Linked DNA regions of Homo sapiens. The protein of the gene in region 2 purifies or fractionates together with the protein of the main gene of each other region. This does not show direct contact. Each region holds a gene or a part of one and is shown on either strand. Other genes may lie near its edges.

Region 1 (7,651 bases), on a different chromosome or scaffold from region 2:
GCACTTTGAAAAACAAATTGGTGGTTTCTTACAAAGTTTGACATATATTTATCATGTGACTCAGCTATCCCACTTCTAGGTATGTACCCAAGAGAACATAGGACACCTTTCCAAGCAAATACTTGTACTAAATGTTTGTAGCAGCTATTATTAGCCCCATACTGGAAGCGAAGCCAAATGTTCAGGTAGTGCTGGGATAAACAAATTGTGCAAATTGTGGTGCACCTATGCAATGAATACTACTTAGTGAAATGTCAATGATGGAAAAGCTCAGGAAACTTAAAGAAAAATCCCCATTGTGCACATTTATGTGAGAAATAGACATGATAAAGAATTAAGCTGACACTCGGAAGGCTAAGGCAGGAGTATTCCTTAAGCCCAGGAGTTTGAGGCTGCAGTGAGCTATGTGCCACTGCACTCCAGCCTGGGTGACAGAGTGAGACCCTATCTCAAAAAAAAAAAAAAAAAAAAAAAAAAAGAAGAAAAGAAGCTGAGATCAGGTACCTTCTGACCACACTTCAAAGAAACATAATAAAAACAAATGAGAAATTCCCATCTTGAAGAATATGACATAACATTACCAAAGTTTCAGCTCTGCATACCCCGCCAGTATCAAGAGTTGTAACCAGAGGGCATGCATGGTTCTAAGACCTAAACGAAATGATCGGTTTATCTTTTGAATCTTTAGCTCTTTTCTTGATCTCATTTTAAAAAATTTTTAAATTATGCTAGACATTTGCTAGGCATTTTCATATGTTATTTTACTTAATCTTCACATTAGCCCTGTGAAATAGGTTTTAACTGTCACCATTTTGGAGCTGAGGAAGTAGATGATGGAGTTTTGACCTAGGTCCCCTGACTCCCAAGTGCACTTATTTTGCTCCTCAGTCTCTTTCTTCATTAGGGTTCAGCTGTTCTCATACGGTTCTTCAGCTGCCCTAGGTTCTTGGGTAGGATTTTCTGCTTACTTTAATGCATAATTTTATGTACGAATTAAGCATTACCTTCTCACCTAAAGCAAACTTTCTTTTCACAGAGTGAGGAAGAGCTCAAATATGCAGCAAGGGGAAGTGAACTTATTAGGTCATTAAAGTAAATCTAAATCCAGTATGAAGACTCATTATTATAACTTTTCAGGAAATATTTAGAGTTCTAAGGAGTTGATTATCTCCATTGCTTTATAGTGGAGATTGAAAGAGATCTGTCTTTGAACTCTACTGTGCTTTGTCCTTTTTAACTGTTCTTGGGTGGAATTACCATAATAAAAATGATTTTTAAAACTTGCTGTTTTACTTCAGAAAGTTTGTTGCCCCATCCATTTTTTTCTACTTTAACAGCAACTGTTACCATATGAGAATAACATTGCAGCAGCTGAAGGAGAAAGTAGCCAGCAGTGTTCGGTGTTATTTATTCCTTATGAGTAGTTATAGTTTTCATGTTCTTTACTGTTGTCAAATTTTAACCATTTAACATTTGTTCTTCTCGTTCAGGGTAATGCAAACCTGGATATCCAGAATGTGAACCAACAAACTGCCCTACACCTTGCTGTTGAACGACAGCATACCCAGATTGTTAGGGTAAAGTATTGACATACATTTTAGCTTATAATTACATTTTAACCATACAGATTTTTAGAACTTCCTGAAAATTGAAATGATACAGTGTTACATGTCTCAAGCTGGCATAGTTAGATATAAGTAAATCTAAATATCTAAATACAATGTGATCTGCCAAGACAGATGAGACCATATGCTTGAGATTGGCTTCTATATATAGATGGTACTTTTCTAAAGCTCTTCAGTAAGTATCGTAGAAGGGATTAGGAAAATTGTTAAAGCACCATAAGCAAAGTTTTAATAAACTTATATTTACTGCTTAAGTAATCTATTGAAATATGTCAACTGTGCATTTTTATTTAGGGGGTTGTAGTTTAGCAAACACTGTTCGTATTTATTGTTATTTGAAATTCCTCTTGATATCCTCCATGGCTTTCTTCATGACCATACATTTGGAGAAAATTGACCAAAAGAGAATGGAATCAATAATAACAGTTCCTTGTTTGTTTACATAATAGAAGAATTTTGAACATTATGATTTGGTCCTGGTGGAAGTGCTTAAAATATCTCAAGTCATACATCTAAAGTTGAAAAGAGAAATAAAGTCCTAAATATCCCTCCGTTATCATCATCTTAGAGTAGATGAATTAAGCAACATATTGATTCTCATATATTTTTATTTTCTCTAATTCAATATATTTAAATAACCAGAACACGTGACTCTTTGTAAGGAGCCACAGGGTTGGAGAAGAGTAGAAGGCAAAAGCATAAAAATGATTAGCTTTAGTGGTAACTTCTTCAGTAGGTCCAGGGTGTTCTCACCATTACTTTAGATATGTTGAAGTTTCTTATGGATGTGGACACTTTGCCAAAATGAGACATCTTTCTCTTTTAGCTTTTGGTCCGTGCAGGTGCCAAGCTTGATATTCAGGATAAGGATGGGGATACTCCTTTGCATGAAGCTCTAAGGCATCACACTTTGTCTCAGCTACGTCAGCTCCAAGATATGCAAGATGTGGGGAAGGTGGATGCTGCCTGGGAGCCATCCAAAAACACGGTGAGTAAAGATCATCTTTCATTCAGTACCAGTGGAAGAATCTTTTCATGCAAGATCTTATATTTACTGGTAATCTAACCTGTATTGGATAAAATATTTTATCAGAGCTATGTACTTAGAAACTTAGTTTATGAACTTAGTACTAGTCAGTACTAACTTATTGCTCCACATTTTTACCAAAAGTTGTTCAGTTCTGTTGTTGTTGTTGTTGTTATGTGGAGTCCCACTCTGTCACCCAGGCTGGAGTGCTTGGCTCACTGCAACCACCTGGGTTTAAGCCATTCTCTTGCCTCAACCTCCCAAGTAGCTGGGATTATAGGCGCCTGCACCACACCTAGCTAATTTTTGTATTTTTAGTAGAGACGGAGTTTCACCATGTTGGTCAGGCTGGTCTCGAACTCCTGACCTCAGGTGATCCACCCGCCTCGGTCTCCCACAGTGCTGGGATTACAGGCCTGAGCCACTGCGCCCAGCCATTCAGTTCTTTTTTAACATCAGCCATTCAAATAGATACGTAGTGGTATCTTATTGTGGTTTAATTTGCATTTTCCTAATGACTATTGATATTGAGCATCTTTTCATTTGTCTGTCACCATATGTATTTTATGAAGTGTCTGCTCAAATCTTTTGTTCATTATTTTGTTAGGCTGTTTGTTTTCTTACTACTGAGTTTTGAGAGTTCTTTATGTAATCGGAATACAAGTTCTTTATATGTGAATGCACATATTTTCTCCCAGTTGGTAGGAGATTTGTCTTTTCATTCTTTTTTTTTTTTGAGATGGAGTCTCGCTCTGTCGCCCAGGCTGGAGTGCAGTGGCACAATCTTGGCTCACTGCAACCTCCGCCTCCTGGGTTCAAGTAATTCTCCTGCCTCAGCCTCCCAAGTAGCTGGGACTACAGGTGCATGCCACCACGCCCAGCTAATTTTTTGTATTGTTTTTAGTGGAGACGGGGTTTCACCTTAGCCAGGGTGGTCTTGATCTCCTGACCTCGTGATCTGCCTGCCTCAGCCTCCCAAAGTGCTGGGATTACAGGCATGAGCCACCACACCCAGCCCTTTTCATTCTTCTAATAGTGATTTGGAAGAGTCAAATTTTTTAATTTTGAGGAAGTCTAATTTATCAAGTTTTTCTTTCATCATTTGTGTTTTTTGTGTGTGTTCTGTCTGAGATATCTTTGCCAAACCCAAGATCGCTAAGGTTTTCTTTTATGTTTTGTACTAGAAGTTTATAAAGTTTTAGCTGTTATGTTTAGGTCTATGATTCTTTTTGAGTTAATTTGTATATATTGTGTGACATATGGATCCAGGTTTATTTACTTGTGGATATCCAGTTGTTCCAGTGCCATTAGTTGAAAAGACTTTGTTTCTTTTCTTTTTTCTTTTTTTTGAGACAGAGTCTTGCACTGTTGCCTGGGCTGGAGTGCAATGGTGTGATCTTGGCACACTGCAACCTCTGCCTCCTGGGGTCACGCGATTCTCCTGCCTCAGCCTCCCAAGTAGCTGGCATTGCAGGTGCACACCACCACACCTGGCTAATTTTTTGTATTTTTAGTAGAGACAAGGTTTCACTATGTTGGCCAGACTGGTCCCGAACTCCTGACCTCATGATCCGTCTGCTTCAGCCTCCCAAAGTCCTGGGATTACAGGCATGAGCCACCACACTCGGCTGAAAAGACTTTCTTTTTCTACTGAATTGCCAGTATACTTTTATCCAAAATCAGTTAATTGTTTATGTGAAGGTCTCTTTCTGGATCATGTATTCTGTTCTGTTGGTCTATGTTTTTAGCTATTTGATACCAGCCCCCAGTCTTAATTACTGTCTACATAATACGTGTTGAAGTCAGGTAGTGTCAGTCCTCCAGTTTTCTTGTTTTTTCGAAGTTATTTGACTATTCTAAGTCCTTCACATTTCCATAAGAATTTTAAAATCATTTTTTAGAGGGTAAAAAGGTTCTGAGACCAAAGTGTTTGAGACCTCTGCCTTATTTATGACCATGGGTAAGTTCTCTTAGCTCGGTGTGCCTCTTTTTTTCTCATTTTAAAATGGGAAGAGGAGAGCACTTACCTCGATAAGGTTGTTGTAAAGATCATGGAAAGTGTGTAAAATAATACTTGATCCATTTTAGACACTCAATAAATGTTAACAGTTATTGTGACTATTTTCACATAAGATGATGAGAAGAATCTCAGATAATATTATCAGAACCTAATTTGTCTCATTCTCCGTATCTTGGCTCAATTCCTAGTCATTGGTTCTTTTCTCAGTTGTCTCTCCTGTCATTGTTTCAAGTTGGTTGCTAGCTGCTCCAGAGCCAAATTAATTAGGAAAGAGAGTACTGTTTCTTTAGTATCTCAATCAGAAGTTCCACTTTTGAGTTCTGTTGGGCTTAATTGACTTGATTTGTGTTATGTGTCCATCCCGGTTCTAGCCATATAGGTAAGGTAGAGGTATCTGACTGGTTTGGGCCATGTTTGGTCCACCTCTGCAGCTGGAGAATGTAGGTCCACCTCTACAACTGGAGAAAGCATACTTGTGTGTATGCTTGAGAAAACCAGGGGTAGAGTGGTGGGGAGGGAACATTAGGACTAGAACTCATAAGTGTCCACCACACACACATACATATATATGATGACAAGAATTGATGGCAGATTCCTAGAGGGAAAATCATGACTCTTTATTTTATTGCAGTTAATAATGGGACTTGGTACCCAGGGGGCAGAGAAGAAGAGTGCAGCATCTATTGCCTGTTTCTTGGCAGCCAATGGTGCTGACCTGAGCATTCGAAATAAGAAGGGTCAATCGCCACTTGATCTCTGTCCTGATCCGAATCTCTGCAAAGCACTGGCAAAGTGTCATAAGGAAAAAGTCAGGTTTGTATTATTTATTATCATAAAACTTAATATTCTGTACAGAAAATATCATGTGGTTTCGTAATGGAGGACGTGGCTACTTGAAAATGTCTTCATCTTTGCTCTTCCTGTATATTTGTGTTGACCCTTTCTTTCCTGAAATTTTTCTTCCTTGAAAATTTTTCTGCAGGCAGCATGTCTCTTATTTTATGCCATATTCCCCACATTATTGAGTGCAATGCTCTATACTTAATAAGTTCTGAGAAACTTTTCTAAACTAGTCTGATCTTCTAGTACTCCCATGTGTTAGAGGGATTTATGAGAAAAAGTCTTCTAGTAAAATTGCTGTTGTTAATGTTACATGTATTTTAAATTGTATTTATTTTTTATTGTATTATTATTATTTTTTAAAAATACGTCTTGCTGTGTTGCCCAGGTTGGGCTTAAACTCCTGGGCTCAAGCAATCCTCTTGCTTCATCCTCAGTAGCTGGGACTGTATGCATGTGCCACTGTGCCTGGCTCTATATTTAAAATTTAAATAGAATCTTCCTAAGACAGGCAACTTATACTCCATGAACAGGGTATATCTCACACAAACTGTAGCACCCTGCTCAGTGCCTGACAGGTGCACTCAGTATCAGTGGAGAATGAACAAATGAATGCACCAAGTCCTGGTGGAGTTTTCTCTAAAGATGATCATTTCACATTTGTCTCTTTTTCTGAAAGATATGTCAGTGATTTTAATTATTATTTATGACATAACTAATTTCCTTATGAGATTTTATAGATGTACAAAAAGGTACACATCTCATTGCTTTTTTAAATCTGAACAGTGCTGTGCAACTGTTGTTGCCCTTTGTACCTGGTTCTTGTCACTGAAATTTCAGTAGCTGTTCCTTAACCTTAGTGTTCCTTGCCTCTCTCATAATTTATGTGTAGTGATGAAATGTCATCTCTTTGGAATCTGTGCATAGAACTGTGTTATAGAGGAAATTAATATAGTGAGGTATATACATTTCTTTAAGTGTATTGTTAAGGAACATGAAATTCTATTACAAAAAGAGAATGCATCGGCCGGGCGTGGTGGCTCACACCTGTAATCTGAGCACTTTGGGAGGCCGAGGCAGGTGGATTGAGGTCAGGAGTTCAAGACCAGCCTGACTAACATGGTGAGACCCTGTCTCTACTAAAAATACAAAAACTAGCTGGGCGCATGCCTATAATCCCAGCTACTTGGGAGGCTGAGGCAGGAGAATTGCTTGAACCGGGAGGCGGAGGTTGCAGCAGTGAGCCGAGATCACACCACTGTACTCCAGCCTGGGCAACAAGAGCAAAATTCTGTCTCCAAAAAAAAAAATCTATAAATATAAAGATATAAGGCACTATAATTATTGCAGTAATAACTTTTAAACAATGGAGTCTAAGGTGGACCCTCTGTGTACGTGTTGTGTACGTGTTCGTGAGTTTCTGAAGATTGTGGTAGAAACAGGGCATCCCTTTTCTGTAGCTGTAGGTGGTCATATGTATTTCTGTTCCTTGTATCTGTGTTTACGGATGCAGTCTATCTTTCTGTAATATAATTTTATGTTCCTTAAGGATACACTTAAAAATGTCAAAACAGCAGCTGAAGTGTTAAATTTTCCAAAGTGCCCTATCTGTTGTGGACTCTGATGATGCTTTGTTCCGTCTTTAGTAAGGCAACTAACATGGGGGCTAGTGAGGATTTTTGTTTTATTCCTATGCCTTCCTCTGCTGGTTCTATATAGATACAACAGGTTCTGAGCAAAATTTTGTTTATGCTAAGTTTTTTTTTTAATTGCTGTTTTTTATTTCATTGTTAGAAGATTCACCCTTTTCCATTGGGTGAGTGAGTGTTCAGTTTGAAGTTTGAATTGTGTTAGAAGTATCTAAAGATGCAGAGACGCATATAAACACAAAAATTTAATGTTTCACATACAGATGTTAAAGCTTAATTTTTTAATATGACTAGTTTTTATGTATACTAATGATGCTCCAGGTATATTTTAAAACATTTTAATTAGTGAATTTGTAATAAGATAGGCTTGATTTGAAATACTTTCTTTTATTAGTGGTCAAGTGGGTTCTCGGAGTCCTTCTATGATTAGTAATGATTCTGAAACCTTAGAAGAGTGTATGGTGTGCTCAGATATGAAGAGAGATACTCT
Region 2 (7,024 bases):
GTTTTCTGCCGTCCCCGGGACGATGCCTTCGGCCACTTCACCTGTGGGGAGCGTGGGGAGAAAGTGTGCAACCCTGGCTGGAAAGGGCCCTACTGCACAGAGCGTGAGTCTCTGGGAAGGCACCGCTGGCTCACTCGTCCACGAACACGGACCGCGCGCAGGGACGGGGCTTCCTGAGCCACGGGGGGCTTGGGACTGTAGAGATGTTCTGGTGGGGAAACTGAGGCCCAGAGGACAGAAGTGGATTGCTATAAGTCACAGCTCGTCAGTGGGGGGGTTGGGGTCAACGCAGACATTTTAACATCCCAGGCTGTGTTTATCCACTATCGGAACTGCCTTTCTTAATCAGGGAGGATTTTAGAGACAGGGCCAGGGGTCAGGAAGTAAAGCCAGTGCTACCCCCAGGGTGTGTGTATTAGAGAGGGAGAGGAGGAAGGAAGGGAGGAACACAGAGAGAGCTTGTGTGTCAGGGGCACCATTTCAACCCGAGTTCCCAGTGCTGGAACAGCATCACACTGGGAAACGTTCCATTTTCTCTCTGGAGCTGGTGTGCTTGACCTCTCTGGAGCAAACGCCTTTCCGGATACTCCCTGTGACACGCACTGTCTATGCTGGCCAGAGAGCAGGCTTTCACTCCTGTGGGCTGCTGAGGCCAGGTCTCCAAGGCCTGTGTGGGCGAGGGGTGCACAGCCCCGTCTGGCTTGAATGCTCAGGCAGCACCTTGTCTGGAGAAGCAATGTCTTCCCAATAGTGACAGAGGCTCTACCTGCCTCTTATTAGGTATTGATGTGTCAATGTCATGGCAGGCAGGTGACTAGGGCAGGGTTGGGGCCGTGCTGGCTCCTGGTTCTGGCTCATGGGGACCTCAGGAGCCCTCTCTCCAGCTGACTGAGGCCTCGCCTGCACGCCTGGCCGTCCCAGCCCATTGGTACCGGATTTCTCTACAGCTGGGGATTGGGTAGGTCCTGGAGCTGCCCAGAAACTCCAGGGAACTGTCATTCTCCTTCCTTGGAACTGGACAACCTTGGAGAGGGGCTCTGGGAGGCCCAGAACCTCTGGCAGGAGCTGGGTAGTGCCTGGGGTTGAGGGTGGGTCTTCCCATTCACTGAGTGCCTTGATGTCCTTGCTCCTTAGCTTCCCAAATTCCCTCCGGAACTTACTGAGCTCCTTCTAAGCTTTGCCTTGGCCTGAACTGGTTCTGGGGAAAAACAAAAAAACAAAAAACAACTTGTGGAGCTGCTTGTTAATGAGTTTCATAACCAGGCAGCAAGAGCCAGCTCCAAGCCTCAAGCCCACTGTCTACTCCCTGCCCTGCGGGAGCCTCTGGCCAGTCTGCTGCCTCCCACCCTTCCTCCCTGCCTCTCTTCACCACAGGGTAGCCAGAAACTTAAACTTTTTTCTTCAAACACTGAAGTCTCTCCCCGCCCCCAGCTCGCGCGTGCCATAGATTAGATCTCTCCGGGGATAGGCGCAGGGACACCCGCCGGCTCCCATTGGCGGAAGGGGTGCGTGTGCGTGTGTGTGTGTGTGTGTGTGTGTACACGCGAGGGGTGTGTGTGAGGAGGTGGGGCCGGGGGCGCGGGGGAGGCCGGCATTGTTGCGCTGGGGCAGCTGCCGTGGAGGACAGACAATGGAGCAGCTGTCCTGCCCTGGCACCCTGCATACCAGCTGTCCACTCTTATCTGCACACACACTTTCTGGGATATTAAGAGGTGGAGCTTTGTGCACAGAATTGGGAAGTGGGGGAGGAGGAGGGGGAAGACTTCTGACCCTCTCTTAGAAGAAAAGGGGATAGGGTGGGGGTGGGGGCTTCCGAGAGCCCTTTTGTCCTTGAGCCCCTGTGTTAAGAAGAATGCTCATCCCCAGGGCTGAGTCAAGTCCCAGGCTACTAGGCAGGGGGGTCAGTCCTCCACAACCTGGGAAGATTAACTCAGCTGGGATTTGCTGACTGAAGCCGGCGAGTTGTGTCCTGGCCCCAAGGGCGGCAGCCCTGTTGGGACGTACTTGGCGTGGGGCTTGACCCTGTTTTTCCTTTGCTTGTAGCGATCTGCCTGCCTGGATGTGATGAGCAGCATGGATTTTGTGACAAACCAGGGGAATGCAAGTAAGTCTGCACAAGGTGGTGTTTTGTTTTGTTGCCTTTTCTTGTTATCTTTTCACAGCTGGTGTATTTGTAAAAACAGCCCTAGGTGATCATTCGAAAAACTCCAGTAAGATTGATTGAACAGGGGGCCGTTTTCTCATGTTTCTACTTAATCAATGTTTGGCAGCATGTAAGGTCATGGAGTTGTCATTCGTCTAAGCCCCTTAACGGCTATGAGAATTTACAGATAGTAGTTTAAAAAGAGTTGGCACAGGAAATGATAGTATAGTTCAATGGTTCTCAAATGTTGCCTCATCCTAGAATCACTCAGGGAGTGATTTTTGAGATGCTGACACTGGTGCTGCCCTAACACCCAAGAAGCCAGAACCTCTGGTGGGGCCCAGGCCCAGGCTGCAGCTCCCAAGGTGACCCAGTGTTCTGCTAATCTGGAGAACCAGAGGCTCACTGGTGCTGCGGGAAGATGGTTTCTAGGGTGAGAATGTCCACTGCAAAGCCAGCAACAGTCAACGTCCATCTGAGTCTTCTGCTTTTCTCCAAGGTGCAGAGTGGGCTGGCAGGGCCGGTACTGTGACGAGTGTATCCGCTATCCAGGCTGTCTCCATGGCACCTGCCAGCAGCCCTGGCAGTGCAACTGCCAGGAAGGCTGGGGGGGCCTTTTCTGCAACCAGGGTAAGCCTTCTCTCCCTGAGGCAGCCTGCTCCCTCCAGAGCAGCCCTGGACTTCCCTGGCTGTTTGATCACTGGAAAAATAAAGTCTTCCTGCATTTGATGTCGAGCTTCCTATCTCCTACTTTTCCTGTCCCCACCCTTCACAGACCTGAACTACTGCACACACCATAAGCCCTGCAAGAATGGAGCCACCTGCACCAACACGGGCCAGGGGAGCTACACTTGCTCTTGCCGGCCTGGGTACACAGGTGCCACCTGCGAGCTGGGGATTGACGAGTGTGACCCCAGCCCTTGTAAGAACGGAGGGAGCTGCACGGTGAGTCGGAGGCTCCATGGCATCTCACCCGGAAGCTGGGGTGCCCTGGTGTTGAATGGAGTGTGTGGGCTCCTTGGAGCAACTTTGGAAAGCCTTTTCTGACCTCTCCATCGTGTAGGATCTCGAGAACAGCTACTCCTGTACCTGCCCACCCGGCTTCTACGGCAAAATCTGTGAATTGAGTGCCATGACCTGTGCGGACGGCCCTTGCTTTAACGGGGGTCGGTGCTCAGACAGCCCCGATGGAGGGTACAGCTGCCGCTGCCCCGTGGGCTACTCCGGCTTCAACTGTGAGAAGAAAATTGACTACTGCAGCTCTTCACCCTGTTCTAATGGTAAGGGGGCAGCTGGTGATTGCTCAGAGACTCGGGCGAGCGGTCAATACTGAGGTGGCATTAAAAACAAGCATTTGTGAGTGACCTCGAGTTTATGAATCACTTTTATCCAGACCGCCAGGAATTCTCGATGGAAACTCTATCTTTGAGTCTGGAAAGGCCTGGGGAATGAGAGAGGCCAGGGCATTTGTTATGAAGTTCTCTGTGGAAACCTAGACCAAGCAGTGAATGACTTGCTCAGGGCCACAAGGTGCTTCGGGCACCTGCGGCCGCCTGAGGTTCAGTAAGTGATGCCCACAGGTGCCGGCCACTCCAGCTTGGGAGGATGGCCCAGCTGTGTGGCCACCCAGCACAGTAGTTGGGGGTGTCCCTGAGTGAGGACAGAGAGCCTCCTGCTAGCAGCGAGGGGCTGGCTGCCCAAAGGAGACACACAGCAAGGAGAGCTGGGCCCCAGATGTGCCGGAGCATTCCGGAATGGTCATCCTTCCCCTCCCTCCCTCCCCTGTTGTCAGTGCCTGCTCCTCTCACTTGCTGTGTAACTGTGGGCAAGGACACCCTCGTTAAGCCTCAGTTTCCCCATCTGAAACCTGGGTCGAGTGGCACATGCTCTTGCCCGGCTGTTGTGGCGACTAATGCAGCCACCAGAGTGTTCTGCACAGCGCCTGTCCAGATGCTGGCCGTGTGGTTTCTGACTTGTAGAGCTAGACCTGGACACCTCTCGTATTTGAGGTCCTAAACCATGTCACCTTGCGCTGTGGACTCATTCAGGCCACAGACTGTCTTTGGTTTGTCTGGTTTCTACAGTGTCAGACAGATAGATGCTTCAGAGTGACTTTTTGGTGAACAAACCTACGAGGAGACACGTGATGTTCATGTCCCTGTGTTCCAGGTGCCAAGTGTGTGGACCTCGGTGATGCCTACCTGTGCCGCTGCCAGGCCGGCTTCTCGGGGAGGCACTGTGACGACAACGTGGACGACTGCGCCTCCTCCCCGTGCGCCAACGGGGGCACCTGCCGGGATGGCGTGAACGACTTCTCCTGCACCTGCCCGCCTGGCTACACGGGCAGGAACTGCAGTGCCCCCGTCAGCAGGTGCGAGCACGCACCCTGCCACAATGGGGCCACCTGCCACGAGAGGGGCCACCGCTATGTGTGCGAGTGTGCCCGAGGCTACGGGGGTCCCAACTGCCAGTTCCTGCTCCCCGAGCTGCCCCCGGGCCCAGCGGTGGTGGACCTCACTGAGAAGCTAGAGGGCCAGGGCGGGCCATTCCCCTGGGTGGCCGTGTGCGCCGGGGTCATCCTTGTCCTCATGCTGCTGCTGGGCTGTGCCGCTGTGGTGGTCTGCGTCCGGCTGAGGCTGCAGAAGCACCGGCCCCCAGCCGACCCCTGCCGGGGGGAGACGGAGACCATGAACAACCTGGCCAACTGCCAGCGTGAGAAGGACATCTCAGTCAGCATCATCGGGGCCACGCAGATCAAGAACACCAACAAGAAGGCGGACTTCCACGGGGACCACAGCGCCGACAAGAATGGCTTCAAGGCCCGCTACCCAGCGGTGGACTATAACCTCGTGCAGGACCTCAAGGGTGACGACACCGCCGTCAGGGACGCGCACAGCAAGCGTGACACCAAGTGCCAGCCCCAGGGCTCCTCAGGGGAGGAGAAGGGGACCCCGACCACACTCAGGGGGTGCGTGCTGCGGGCCGGGCATCAGGAGGGGGTACCTGGGGGGTGTCTTCCTGGAACCACTGCTCCGTTTCTCTTCCCAAATGTTCTCATGCATTCATTGTGGATTTTCTCTATTTTCCTTTTAGTGGAGAAGCATCTGAAAGAAAAAGGCCGGACTCGGGCTGTTCAACTTCAAAAGACACCAAGTACCAGTCGGTGTACGTCATATCCGAGGAGAAGGATGAGTGCGTCATAGCAACTGAGGTCAGTGCAGGCAGCAGCCGCTCCCTCCTCCTCGGCATGGGAGCACCTGAAGCTGGAGCACGGGAATCGGTCTCAGGCTAACTTCCCATTTGTCTTGTGGCCCCCCAGGTGTAAAATGGAAGTGAGATGGCAAGACTCCCGTTTCTCTTAAAATAAGTAAAATTCCAAGGATATATGCCCCAACGAATGCTGCTGAAGAGGAGGGAGGCCTCGTGGACTGCTGCTGAGAAACCGAGTTCAGACCGAGCAGGTTCTCCTCCTGAGGTCCTCGACGCCTGCCGACAGCCTGTCGCGGCCCGGCCGCCTGCGGCACTGCCTTCCGTGACGTCGCCGTTGCACTATGGACAGTTGCTCTTAAGAGAATATATATTTAAATGGGTGAACTGAATTACGCATAAGAAGCATGCACTGCCTGAGTGTATATTTTGGATTCTTATGAGCCAGTCTTTTCTTGAATTAGAAACACAAACACTGCCTTTATTGTCCTTTTTGATACGAAGATGTGCTTTTTCTAGATGGAAAAGATGTGTGTTATTTTTTGGATTTGTAAAAATATTTTTCATGATATCTGTAAAGCTTGAGTATTTTGTGATGTTCGTTTTTTATAATTTAAATTTTGGTAAATATGTACAAAGGCACTTCGGGTCTATGTGACTATATTTTTTTGTATATAAATGTATTTATGGAATATTGTGCAAATGTTATTTGAGTTTTTTACTGTTTTGTTAATGAAGAAATTCCTTTTTAAAATATTTTTCCAAAATAAATTTTATGAATGACAACCAGAAGGCGTAGTTACTTGGCTTTGCCTTAGAGCGGAGGTGTGCTCACTCACCTGCGGCCCGCGAGGCTGAGGGCAGAGGTGGCCTTGGTGTTTCTCTTTTCAAGGCTTTGGTTTCCCTGGATCCATGAGAAGCAGCCCGTTCCTCTCCTCCCTCAGGAAGCTGCTTGCTGGCCATCATGAGGTGACTTGGTAAGAGCAGGCACGCGCATGAAGCAGCCGCGATTTTCTAATTCCATCCCCCCATGCATTTATTAGTTCTTTCCGCAGAAAGAATGAGCGTTCCTCATTCATTCATTCATTCATTCATTCATTCATTCATTCATGTCAGTGTAGACTTGTGAGTTATTTTGTACCCAGTGGGTCACAGCTGTCATGATTTTGTCGCCGTTTGACGCCAACATGGCCCCAGACGGGGCGTGGGAGTCACGGAAGCTGCTCCTCCGCTTCCCGTCGGTGGGCAGCCCCGTCTCTAAGCGCGTCCCGCCTGCTGGCTCAGCAGGACCGCACGGGCTCCCTGTGGGCTGACCCCTCATTTGCCGCTTTGCCCCCCGCTAAGCCCGGGTTCCTTATGGTAGTGATTGCATTTTTAACTTGCGCGTACCTCAAAGCGCTGAGCGGTTCCCAGGATGGAAAGAGGGCGACCGATGTAGCAGGAGCTGCGCGGAGGCACTGGCGCTCACTCCCCTCAGACCCGACTCCGCTTGCATTTCCTCCTTGCATTAAGGGCACGTTAAATGCCAGGCCAGCAACACCAGCAAAGAGGAGAAGTGTTTTGCTAAGAACATTGAGCTTGAATCCGATGACAGCTCTCAGTCTCATTACCAGTTACGGAAACACGGGACTGAAAACTCCTTCCTCGACGCCCCACGCATCTGCGCAGCCGAAT

The links. The genes of interacting proteins can lie anywhere in the genome.
Region 1: the proteins of DLL1 (region 2) and MIB1 purify together in Homo sapiens (affinity purification with western blotting; 2 studies listed by BioGRID). This does not show direct contact.

Annotation. Positions count from the first base shown.
Region 1 is NC_000018.10:21,841,641-21,849,291, forward strand, and holds part of MIB1 (E3 ubiquitin-protein ligase MIB1), read left to right. Parts: intron 1-1,490; coding exon 1,491-1,577; intron 1,578-2,451; coding exon 2,452-2,613; intron 2,614-5,303; coding exon 5,304-5,485; intron 5,486-7,555; coding exon 7,556-7,651. UniProt on the Homo sapiens protein: E3 ubiquitin-protein ligase that mediates ubiquitination of Delta receptors, which act as ligands of Notch proteins.
Region 2 is NC_000006.12:170,281,318-170,288,341, reverse strand, and holds the end of DLL1 (delta-like protein 1 precursor), read left to right. Parts: coding exon 1-103; intron 104-2,043; coding exon 2,044-2,104; intron 2,105-2,642; coding exon 2,643-2,773; intron 2,774-2,918; coding exon 2,919-3,088; intron 3,089-3,206; coding exon 3,207-3,423; intron 3,424-4,312; coding exon 4,313-5,111; intron 5,112-5,236; coding exon 5,237-5,354; intron 5,355-5,462; coding exon 5,463-5,468; 3' UTR 5,469-6,136; downstream 6,137-7,024. UniProt on the Homo sapiens protein: Transmembrane ligand protein of NOTCH1, NOTCH2 and NOTCH3 receptors that binds the extracellular domain (ECD) of Notch receptor in a cis and trans fashion manner.